Linked DNA regions of Homo sapiens: region 1 is linked to region 2. The links come from fine-mapping of genetic effects on gene expression. Tissue or cell type: tibial nerve. Region 2 holds a variant in brackets; the other region holds the start of a gene. All regions are shown on one strand. Distances are between the middles of the regions.

Region 1 (5,377 bases), 56 kb after region 2:
GAGGCATGTTTCTATTAAGAGTAGTGTCCATGTTTTGATCTGTGTTGAGACTAAACCTAAGGAGTGATCTAACTCAAATTAGAGTTGATCAGAAAACAAGCACATAGAACAGTGGCTAGTTGTGCCTGTGCATATCTTATATATATATATATTTTTTTTTTTGAGACGGAGTCTCGCTCTGTCACCCAGGCTGGAGTGCAGTGGCACCATCTCTGCTCACTGCAAGCTCCGCCTCCCAGGTTCACGCCATTCTCCTGCCTCAGTCTCCCGAATAGCTGGGACTACAGGTGCCCGCCACCATGCCCGGCTAATTTTTTGTATTTTTTTTAGTAGAGACGGGGTTTTACCGTGTTAGCCAGGATGGTCTTGATCTCCTGACCTCATGATCTGCCTGCCTCAGCCTCCCAAAGTGTTGGGATTACAGGTGTGAGCCACTGTGCCCGGCCATGTATCTTATATCTTAGCTAGTAGTCTACCAACTCCTTGAGGGGTAGAAACCAAGTTGTATAGAGCTGTGTACTCCCCCAGTACCTGGCACAGTTTCCTGAGAAAAACAGATGTTTCAGAATATTTTTTAGTAAAAGAAAAAAAGCGGCCCAGCGCGGTGGCTCATGCCTATAATCCCAGCACTTTGGGAGGCTGAGGCAGGCAGATCACCTGAGGCCAGGAGTTTGAGACCAGCCTGGCCAACATGGAGAAACCCCGTCTCTACTAAAAATACAAAAAATTACCCGGACATGGTGGCAAGTGCCTGTAATCCCAGCTACTCGGGAGGTTGAGGCAGGAGAATCACTTTAACCCGGAGGTGGAGGCTGCAGTGAGCTGAGATTGCACCATTGCACTCCAGACTGGGCAACAAGAGCGAAACTCCATCTCAAAAAGAGAAAGAAAGAAAGAAGTGGTAAAAAGCAAATATGTGGAGTCATATTATATCCACAGTGGTAGCTATTATGATGTAAACGAAGGCAAAAATAATTAATAAGGACCTAACCTAGCATGTTATGACTGCTTACGTTGTATGCAATATATTACAAATCAGCAAAATATAAGCTCTGAAAATTCAGATGGTGTCTTTAGTTCTCATCTCTGGTATCCCATCTACAACAATCCACCATGGAAGTTAAGTACGTCTGCTACTTCGGATCACAGGGAGGTCTGATGTCTTTATTTTTATTTATTTATTTATTTTTTTGAGACGGAGTCTTGCTCTGTCTCCCAGGCTGGAGTGCAGTGGCACAATCTTGGCTCACTGCAAGCTCCGCCTCCCGGGTTCACGCCATTCTCCTGCCTCAGCCTCCCAAGTAGCTGGGACTACAGGCACCCGCCACTACGCCCGGCTAATTTTTTGTATTTTTAGTAGAGATGGGGTTTCACTGCATTAGCCAGGATGGTCTCGATCTCCTGACCTCGTGATCCGCCTGCCTCGGCCTCCCAAAGTGTCTGATGTCTTCTGACAAAAGATATTTAATCACGCTTTCATTCAACAAATATTACTTGAAACATTACATTTTTTGAACTAGAACTTTATGCATTACCGTAAGCATAGTTGCTTGAAAACGTAGTGAATTTCCTAAAAAGCTAACAATTTTATATGCAAGCATAGTGGCCAAACACTAACTCAATGCAAAGGAGTATTAAATCTGTTTCTTTAAAGGTATGATTTTAAAACAAAACCCTTTTCTATTTATTGTCTCAGTCTGTATACATTTGAAAAGAAAACTTAATAATCTGGTGCTTAAGAAGGTTTATAAAAGAGCATGTGAATGCCCAGTTTAGATAATTGTGCAATTCACAATGCAGTATAATTAAAAGTGAAAGTGATCTTATTCAACATACGACTGCATGTACGGACATGAATTATCATCTGCATATACATATATGTGTTCTCTTTCACACACCTACCACTTTTCACACAACATACATACATATACAATACAAAGCATAGTCTTACCCAAGATTTTCAAGGTCAAAAATGCGATTCAGGTCACAGTCAATATATCTGGTACACTTCTTCACTGCTCTGGGGTTAGTAATAAATGGTTTTACCTCCAGCCCTGTTCTCTGAATCTCAGCGCCATTCTCTAGCCAATGCTTAACCAGAAATACTCCGGTTAGCTCATTCCCATGGGTTCCTCCAAAGATAGCAACCTTTTGTATATGTTCTTCAGCAATGTGACAAGAAGTCATTTCACCAAGTAGTTTTTATCTGATTTCTGCAATTCAGAAGAGAGATCAAAGGAAATTCGATTTTCTTAAGAAAGGTTTAGAAATGTAAATGAGACTTTACCCAAAGGGCAAAGTACAGAATTCCCTTGAGTGGAGTATATTTTAATTTTCTGTTACAAGTTCTGAGCCCCGTTTATGGACACTCCCTTCTTTAGCCCTGCCCTTTGCCATATTTGGATTAAAATATGCAAAGATCAACTAGAGATACAGCTGTTTACTTTAACTTCTAACTCCCTCAGATGGTCAGTAGATCTAAATACAGTAATAAATTAGCATTTCATACTAATACAAAAATTCCATTCTTTTCCTCAGCTAGGATGTCATCCAGTGAGGCTTTCACAATTATCTGTAATAATAAAAATAGTTTATACGTTTCTAATTTCACAAAATAAAAAAGTGGCCCACTCAGTATTTCCACGGGCATTTCAAAACATTTCTTCTCTGAAATGAGTTCAAGCACTTTTCATGATCTGAGGGCATTTGAATCTCACCTCTATAAACAGCCAAAGGCTGACCCTCAGAGACCTCCTCTTGAACCGGCGCCCATTCTTTCAGAATGCTTTTTCACAATCAGAAACAGAAGGGCCAAATCAATGATCACTTGGGACTCGAAAAGCTACCCTGAAACATCCCTTCATTTCTTTCTCATGAGGTTTTTGGTAATTCTGTGTTAACTTACTTATGAATCTTCCTCATTTTTTGCCTAAATACCAAAGGAAAGACAACTGTTAGTACTTTTCAAGTTTTTGTGATGCCTGAAAATGTCTTGGGACACACTGCATGTGCTAACCACATCATGTGAACTTACATAGACACAGCCTTATTCACTGTCAGCGGGGACTCTCCACTGGACTGTGTTACTCAAAAAGGGGTCTTATTAGGGGAAATTTTCCAGAATACTAAGATGATTACATCCCTTTGGAGAAATGACTCTGAGCCAAATCTGATTTGATTTCATGCTCAGTCACCCAGAAAGTCACATATGTTCAAGTACTGGGAATACCATGTACTAGTAACGCCAGGTTGTTTGATAGAGGGTACAATAAGAGTAATTTATTACAATTGCAGAGTTTAATTTATAATGTCCTTTCACTCAGTTTATTCATACATTAATTTTATACGATAGGGTGGGTTAGGTGTTGACATCCCCACTGCAGGGGTAAACGAAAGAGAGGTTAAGTAACTCAGTTAAGGTTCTGCAGGGATGTAGGAGAACCTAGGCCTGAGACCCATGTTTCTCATCCCAAGTCTAGTGTTTTTCACAGGACAATAGGGTGCCTCTCTGTTATTTTTGGTCTTCTTCACAGTTCTAGTTTTGCTCTTTCAGAATTCACATAAACAGCCATTACAGTGTGCTCAGGAAACAAACATGCATACAAACCAAATACATGGTGGAAAAATAAAATATGAATGCTTCCTAATATTTAATAAACCCACTGAATGTTCTTCCTTTAAGAGCTTATAATGCAGAGATAGAGAAAGCAAAATAACCACATCAAATCTATGCATTAAAATGACTGTTCTAATAGAAAAAAAAAGCTCCTGTAGGCTTTGACTGTCTGTCCACATCCATGTACACTGAACACTTCAGACGGTGTAGAGATGATGAAAACACACGTAAAAGTAAACAGATGACAGTTGTTTAGTTGCTTTGGTTTTAAGAGCAGTAACCATGGTGAATTATTAACACTCTACTATGCTTGGTTTCTTTTCTGCTGATTTGTAGTTTGTTCTGTCCTTTGCCCTAGTCTCTCTGGAAATGCTGCTTCAGTTATTTACTCGTAGCTGGCACAAATGACTTGCATTTTGAAGCTTGTTTTATGGAATTTTAACAGATCAGCACTTTGAAGCACATTTCACATTCATAAATAAAGTTTCTCTTACATGTCAAAATGAATAACTTTTTTGAGAGTTAATGAATTGCAGCAATTATTTCCCATACTTACCTTGTTTTTTGTGTACAGAGTTTGTCTTCTGTGGAAAGCTTTATTAGGAAAAAGGAGAGCATTTCCTCAGAAGTAGAGCAACAGAGGCTTTTCATACTCTTATACCAAGTTAACTTCCGAAAGATTTTTAACTCCCTGTTTCCCAAAGTGTACTTGATTTTTGGGATGACCCAAAAAACCACACTTTTTTATTAGTTCTCAGCGAACTGATAGTATACGAAGTGAAACCCTTTCGAATTGTCACTATCTCATTATTAAGTTGAATATATAATATTCTGAAGTACTTAAAAGAGTAAGCATAACTTCCAGCATTACAAATGTTTTGTGGGATAGAGTTGCCTGATGTATTAATAAAATAATGTAGTTTAAAACAAAAGGATGCCAGGTGTGGTCTCATGCTTGTAATCCCAGCACTTTGGGAGGCCGAGGTGGGCGGATCACCTAAGGTCAGGAGTTCGAGACCATCCTGGCCAACATGGTGAAACCCCGTCTCTACTAAAAATACAAAATTACCTGGGCGTGGTGGCGGGTGCCTGTAATCCTAGTTACTCAGGAGGCTGAGGCAGGAGAATCACTTGAACCTAGAAGGCGGAGGTTGCAGTGAGCTGAGATTGTGCCATTGCACTCCAACCTGGGGAACAAGAGCGAAACTCCGTCTCAAAAACAAAACAAAACAAAACAAAAGGAGAGCAGAGTTTTACTTCACAGTCATGGCTGTCCAGTAGATCCCTGCCAGAAATTTTGTAGGAGACAAATTTAAGGTGGGTTGTTTCCCAAATGGTATGACTGGGGGATAAGAAGGGTTTTTTGTTAAATATTATACATAAGATGTCTCATACATAATGTGATGTTCAGTAGTTATGTAATCAAACTACTTTTACTACTTTAGTTTTCTCCTTCCCTGTGATCCATCCTGACCAACTTTCCAGGTGGAAATAAATAAGCAGAAAAAGACAAGTATAAAACAGATTAAGTTTATAAACTGCTAGCAAATATTCTATATTGCTCATGTCTGCAGTCCCTACAGAAGTAATCGGCTTAAGGTGGTTTTTTTTTTTTTTTTTTAATGAAAAATCTATTTTTGGGGTGGGTGGGTGTGTGTTGTAAATGTATGCACATCCGTATGTAGATATCAAGTCAAAATCTGCTTCCCTGAAGCTTCTATTCATGTTTTGGGTAACTCCTCTCTGGAACCATGATAAATA
Region 2 (5,377 bases):
TTGGGAAGCATTTGTTGGGTGGGGCGAGGAGAGGGGAGGCAGCTGAAGACCTGGTGTCCGGAGCTGGTCGTGTCCCAGGCTTGCTGTGTGACCTCATGTGAGTCACTTGCCTTATTTTTTCTTAACAAGCATTTATTGAGCACTTACTGTCTACATCAGGCACTGTTCTAGGTACTTGAAATGTATCAGTGAACAAAATAGAGATCCTTGCCCTCATGGAACTTACATTCTAGACAGGGAGAGACCATCGGTAATAAGCACTATAAATAAGAATTTTATATACTATGATATGAAATGATAAGTGCTCTTAAAAAATACAAAGTAGACCGAGTGCAGTGACTCACATCTGTAATCCCAGCACTTTGGGAGGCCAAGGCAGGTGGATCACGAGGTCAGGAGTTCAAGACCATCCTGGCCAACATGGGGAAACCCCATCACTACTAAAAATACAAAAATTAGCCGGGCGTGGTGGCGGGCGCCTGTAGTCCCAGCTACTCAGGAGGCTGAGGCAGGAGAATAGCTTGAACCCGGGAGGCAGAGGTTGCAGTGAGGCGAGATCGCACCACTGCACTCCAGCCTGGCGACAGAGTAGGACTCCATCTCAAAAAAAAAAAAAAAAGTAAAGCAGAGGACAAGGAACCAAGAGTTCTGTCTGGGACAAGAGGAGGGTGGATTTTAATTTTAAATAGAGTGGTTAGGGTGGCTCACTGAAAGGTGACATTTGAGCAAGGACTTGAAGGAGGTGAGGGAGAAAGTGACTGGGCTATCTACAGGCAGAGGGGACAGCCGAGCGAAGGCCCCCAGGCGGCGTGTTGGAGGAGGTGGAAAAAGGCCGTTGTAGCAGGAGGGAGTGAGTGATGGAGAGAGGAGGTCAGAGTATGCAGGGCTTTGTGGGCTGTCATTGGAACCTGTGCTTTCATTCTGGGGGAGGCACTAACAGGTTGGTCTGGCTGCTGTGCTGAGCAGAGTATTAAAGGGCCAGGGTGGAGGCAGGGAGGCCAGTTAGGAGGCTACCGCAGTGATCTAGCTTCACTCTTCCCCGTAGAAGCGGAAGATGGGGAGAGGGCTAGGGAACCTGAGGTGCCCATCCTGCTGAGATAGGATATGGGCCCCAGTCCTGGGGCTTGGGGGACGCTGCTTCCGGCCCATGAGAGAACCAAGCTTCAGTGCGCTCATCCCCCAGGTGAGACGCCCCTGGCCCTGGCAGCATGCACCAACCAGCCCGAGATTGTGCAGCTGCTGATGGAGCACGAGCAGACGGACATCACCTCGCGGGACTCACGAGGCAACAACATCCTTCACGCCCTGGTGACCGTGGCCGAGGACTTCAAGACGCAGAATGACTTTGTGAAGCGCATGTACGACATGATCCTACTGCGGAGTGGCAACTGGGAGCTGGAGACCACTCGCAACAACGATGGCCTCACGCCGCTGCAGCTGGCCGCCAAGATGGGCAAGGCGGAGGTGGGGCCATGGGGCGTGGGGAGGCAGGAGGTCGGGAGGTCAGGAGGTACAGCTGCCACCCTCTCAGCCCCGGGGGCCTTACTGGGGATTCACAAACCACAGCCTCAGCCTTGAGAAGGTCCCAGCCTTGGGTCCAGAACTGCAGTGGCGTGGCGGCCGGAGGCAGGTTTGTTCTGAGGGGCCACGCGGAGCTGGTGCGATGCAGCCCACTCTCTAGACTTCAGTCCCTAATACGCCGCGTTTCCATCTCTTGTCCTGGGAGGGCTAGGCTGGGGGAGCCTGAGGCTGAGGTGACACAATAGCCCCAGCAGTGGGTGGCCCTTGGGGCCTTCTGCCTCTCACGAGGACGGGAGTTCCAGAATGGCTGCTGCGGGCGCAGCGCTAATATGCTGCCATTTCCCAATTATGGGGAGACCCCAGCCTGTTTGTGCGGTTGGAACTCTGTGCCAGGTCCCCAGCCAAGAGTGTGGCCGCTTTGGGCCCTTCTTGCCTTGTGTGATGTGGCTGAGAAATCGAGGCTTGGCTGGGAGCCTTGGTGAAGACTTGAGCAGGGCTGGGCTCAGATCTCTTTCAGGGGCCGGTGTCATGGCTTGGTCTGAGATGTTCTTCTCAGGGGACTGATTCTGGGGTCCAAGCGTGTTCCTCAGCCTCACTGTCTCTACGCTCTGCGAGGAGGCTGTGGCTCCTGGGACGCCATCAGAGGACACTGGGGGGTGGTGACTGTTGAGTAATCGCAGCTGTGCCAGCCTCAGGGTACCCGCCTCCCTGGTCAGCTGCCCCGAGGGCCTTGGTCCTGTCCCAAGTGGTCAGGGCTGGGACCCACAAGGGGCCTTTTGATTCTCCCGTGGGGGAGGAGGAGATGGAGAACGGCTTCAACAGAGGAGGAAT[T/C]GTGTGTCTGCCTCCCCGCAGCTCCTGCCTACCCTCAGGGTCACAGCTTGCTGGGGCTTTGAAGAGTCAGCTTGTGGTTGCAGAAGGAGCCTTCTCCAAGGCCGTCTTCCCTGTGTGCCACTGTGGCGGGTGCTGTCCCTGCCACCCCAGCCCAGGGAGGAGGCTTCCTGCATGGAGCATGGTCCCAGGACCCCCTTGTTTTCTAGGGGACAGTGTGCCCGCTGTGGCCGGCCCGGGGGAGGCACCTGTCTCCCGCTTCCCTCCTCTGTTCCGTGTCCTCCAGAAAACTTTTCTGGATGCTGCCCAGCTTGGCCACCGTCCTGGGGCTTTTATAGGCTGGGGTGCGGGGCGGAGAGACCTGGCCTTATCCCTAGAAGCTCTCTGCCTGGGCTCTCATGACAGATGGGATGGGAACCCAGTGGGTCTTGTGAGGCCAGGTCTCTGACACTGTCCTTCCCAACAGTCCCTTCCTCTTGGGTCTTGAGTTGGTGTCCTAGGAAGTCCATGTCTCATCCTGGGGTAACCCAGGGCTCAGCTTTTTGGAAGTAGGAAGCCAGAGACAGCAGCTCTGTGTCCAGCCTGCACTTTGGAGCCAACCAGGAAGCTTCACAAATACAGACTCCTGGGTCCCACCCTGGATATTTCGATTTCATCAGTTGATGCTGTGGGAATTTTTGGTTTTTTTGTTTGTTTGTTTTGTTTTGTTTTTTTTGAGACTAGAGTCTCACTTCATTGCCCAGGCTGGAGTGCAGTGGCGCAATCATGGCTCACGGCAACCTCCACCTCCCAGGTTCAAGCGACTCTCCTGCCTCAGCCTCCTGAGTAGCTGGGGTTACAGGCGCCTGCCACCACACCCAGCTAATTTTTGTATTTTTAGTAGAGACAGGATTCCACCATGTTGGCCAGGCTGGTCTCGAACTCCTGACCTCAAATGATCCACCCGCCTCGGCCTCCCAAAGTGCTGGGATTACAGGCGTGAGCTACTGCACCTGGCCATGCTGTGGGAATTTCTAAGTTTCCCAGCAGCCCTAACATGCAGCAGAGTTTGAGGATCACTGGCCTACCGAAGTCCCACGGGCCTCCCTGTAGGGCGTGGTGTCTCTCGTCACCACCTGCCTGGCCAGAGTGGTGAGCCACAGCTGGAGGAGTCTTGGCTTAGGGTGGGCTGGGGACGCTGAGAACACTTCTGGCTTCTTCTCAAGTCCAGAGCAAATGGAAACTGTTTCTAAAAAATCATCAGTGCCTGGATTTTTCACCGAACCGGGTCCCCAGCTGGCGTGAGGCATTTCAAGCTGATTGTGCAGCTTGCTGCAGCCTGCGAAGAACCTTCACACCCTTTGTCCCTGGTATTCACAACCCCCAGTGAGATGGGCGGAACAGCAAGCTTTGTGCGCATTCCACAGATAAAGACGGGGCCCAGGGGCCATGGCGCCAGGCGCAGAGGCAGGTCTCCACCCATTCTGGGCGGGTGTATCCCCTGGGCCCAGCCAGCCTCTGGCTGGTCCAGCCCTGTTGGCCTTAAGCCCCTGTTCTGCAGCTGATGGTTGTTCCTCCTCCTGTCCCAGATCCTGAAGTACATCCTCAGTCGTGAGATCAAGGAGAAGCGGCTCCGGAGCCTGTCCAGGAAGTTCACCGACTGGGCGTACGGACCCGTGTCATCCTCCCTCTACGACCTCACCAACGTGGACACCACCACGGACAACTCAGTGCTGGAAATCACTGTCTACAACACCAACATCGACGTGGGTCTCCTGCACAGGCGGGGAAGGGCAGGGAGAAGAGGGCTGGACCTCAGGCCAGGGGCTGAGAGGACGCTGGGAAGACCCAGTGCTGCCAGCTCCATCCCTCGGCATCTGCATACCCCACTCTGTTGCCTCAGTGAGCAGAGTCAGGCACAGAAAAGGCGAGGCCTGGGACAGATGCTGGGCCCGACTCTTCCTGATTGACCTTGGACTGTAGACCTGAGTGGTGGTGGCGGGGGCGGTGGGCGGGAGGTCTTCTGGACCGAGTATCCAGGGCTGTTTGGGTGTGGGTGTGGGTGATGGGGTGATTGGGGTTGATCCTTTCCATATTGTTTCTCTCCCACCCCCCGTTGGTGTATACGGCCAGGCTTAGAATTCTTTCTTCCCCAAAACCTGGTCCCAAATGAGGGTCAGAGAGTGCACTGAGGAGCAATCGGGGGGCCTTCCTGGAGGAGGCTAGAGGGGAGAGTTCGGTGCAACTGGAGGTGAAGAGAGGAGCAGCTATGAGAGGTGTTCAGCTCTTGGGGGCAGTGAGGCAGCAGGCTGGGTCTTCCTCCTTCATACTTTACTAAGAGTCATGCTTCCCAGAGTCCCCTTGCCTTGGGTCTTCCCAGACCCTCACAGCAGCCTGGTTGGTAGGGCAGGGATTGTTAGCAGTTTTATAGGTGAGGAGTCTGAGGCCCAGAGAGGGTCAGGGTCTGTCCTAAAGTCACACAGCAAAGGAGGAGCAAACTGGGGCTGGAACCCCTGCCACCACCTCCTGCCCGCTTCTATCCTCCACTTTCTGCTGTGCATCGGGTCCTCCTGCTGCAAGCCCGGGCTCCTGCGGCCTCTGACTGCTGCCCTAGTACCCTGGGGAGGAGCCTCAGGAGCCGGAAATCACCCTCCCAGCATTTCCAACCAGACCAGTCCATCGGGCATAATGATGGGCCCCTTCTGCAGCACTGACTCAGAGCTCCCGCAGGCCTTTAGAAAACGGTCCCTCCCTCTCTCCCTCATCTCCATGGTGACTGGTGGCATTCTACCCCTAGAACCGGCATGAGATGCTGACCCTGGAGCCGCTGCACACGCTGCTGCATATGAAGTGGAAGAAGTTTGCCAAGCACATGTTCTTTCTGTCCTTCTGCTTTTATTTCTTCTACAACATCACCCTGACCCTCGTCTCGTACTACCGCCCCCGGGAGGAGGAGGTACGTGGGCCCCTTGGAGGGGGAAAATGGGGCCGTCAGAGCTGGAGGGGCTTGGAGCTGCCCCACGTGCAGGTGGGAAAACTGAGGCCCAGA

Direction of the effects. Alleles are on the strand shown, and positions count from the first base shown. SD is a standard deviation of normalised expression in the study named.
With allele T in place of C in region 2, the expression in tibial nerve of the gene that starts at base 2,350 in region 1 is higher (moderate effect, 0.58 SD a copy in GTEx).

Evidence for each region.
Region 1: it holds the start of ASPA, and the variant in region 2 is fine-mapped to the expression of ASPA in tibial nerve (GTEx, PIP 0.97). The same link has a PIP of 0.9 or more in caudate.

What each region holds. Positions count from the first base shown.
Region 1 is chr17:3,472,970-3,478,346 of GRCh38, reverse strand. It overlaps ASPA (aspartoacylase), which reads right to left and starts at 2,350. Exons shown (of 6, transcript NM_000049.4): 1 at 1,952-2,350. The coding sequence starts at 2,187. It also overlaps a transcript of SPATA22 not described here.
Region 2 is chr17:3,528,744-3,534,120 of GRCh38, reverse strand. TRPV3 (transient receptor potential cation channel subfamily V member 3) reads left to right here. Exons shown (of 18, transcript NM_145068.4): 8 at 1,184-1,464; 9 at 3,918-4,094; 10 at 5,126-5,284. Among named protein-coding and RNA genes, the nearest start is that of TRPV3, 26 kb to the left of the region's middle. The variant T/C (reference allele first, on the strand shown) is at 2,353.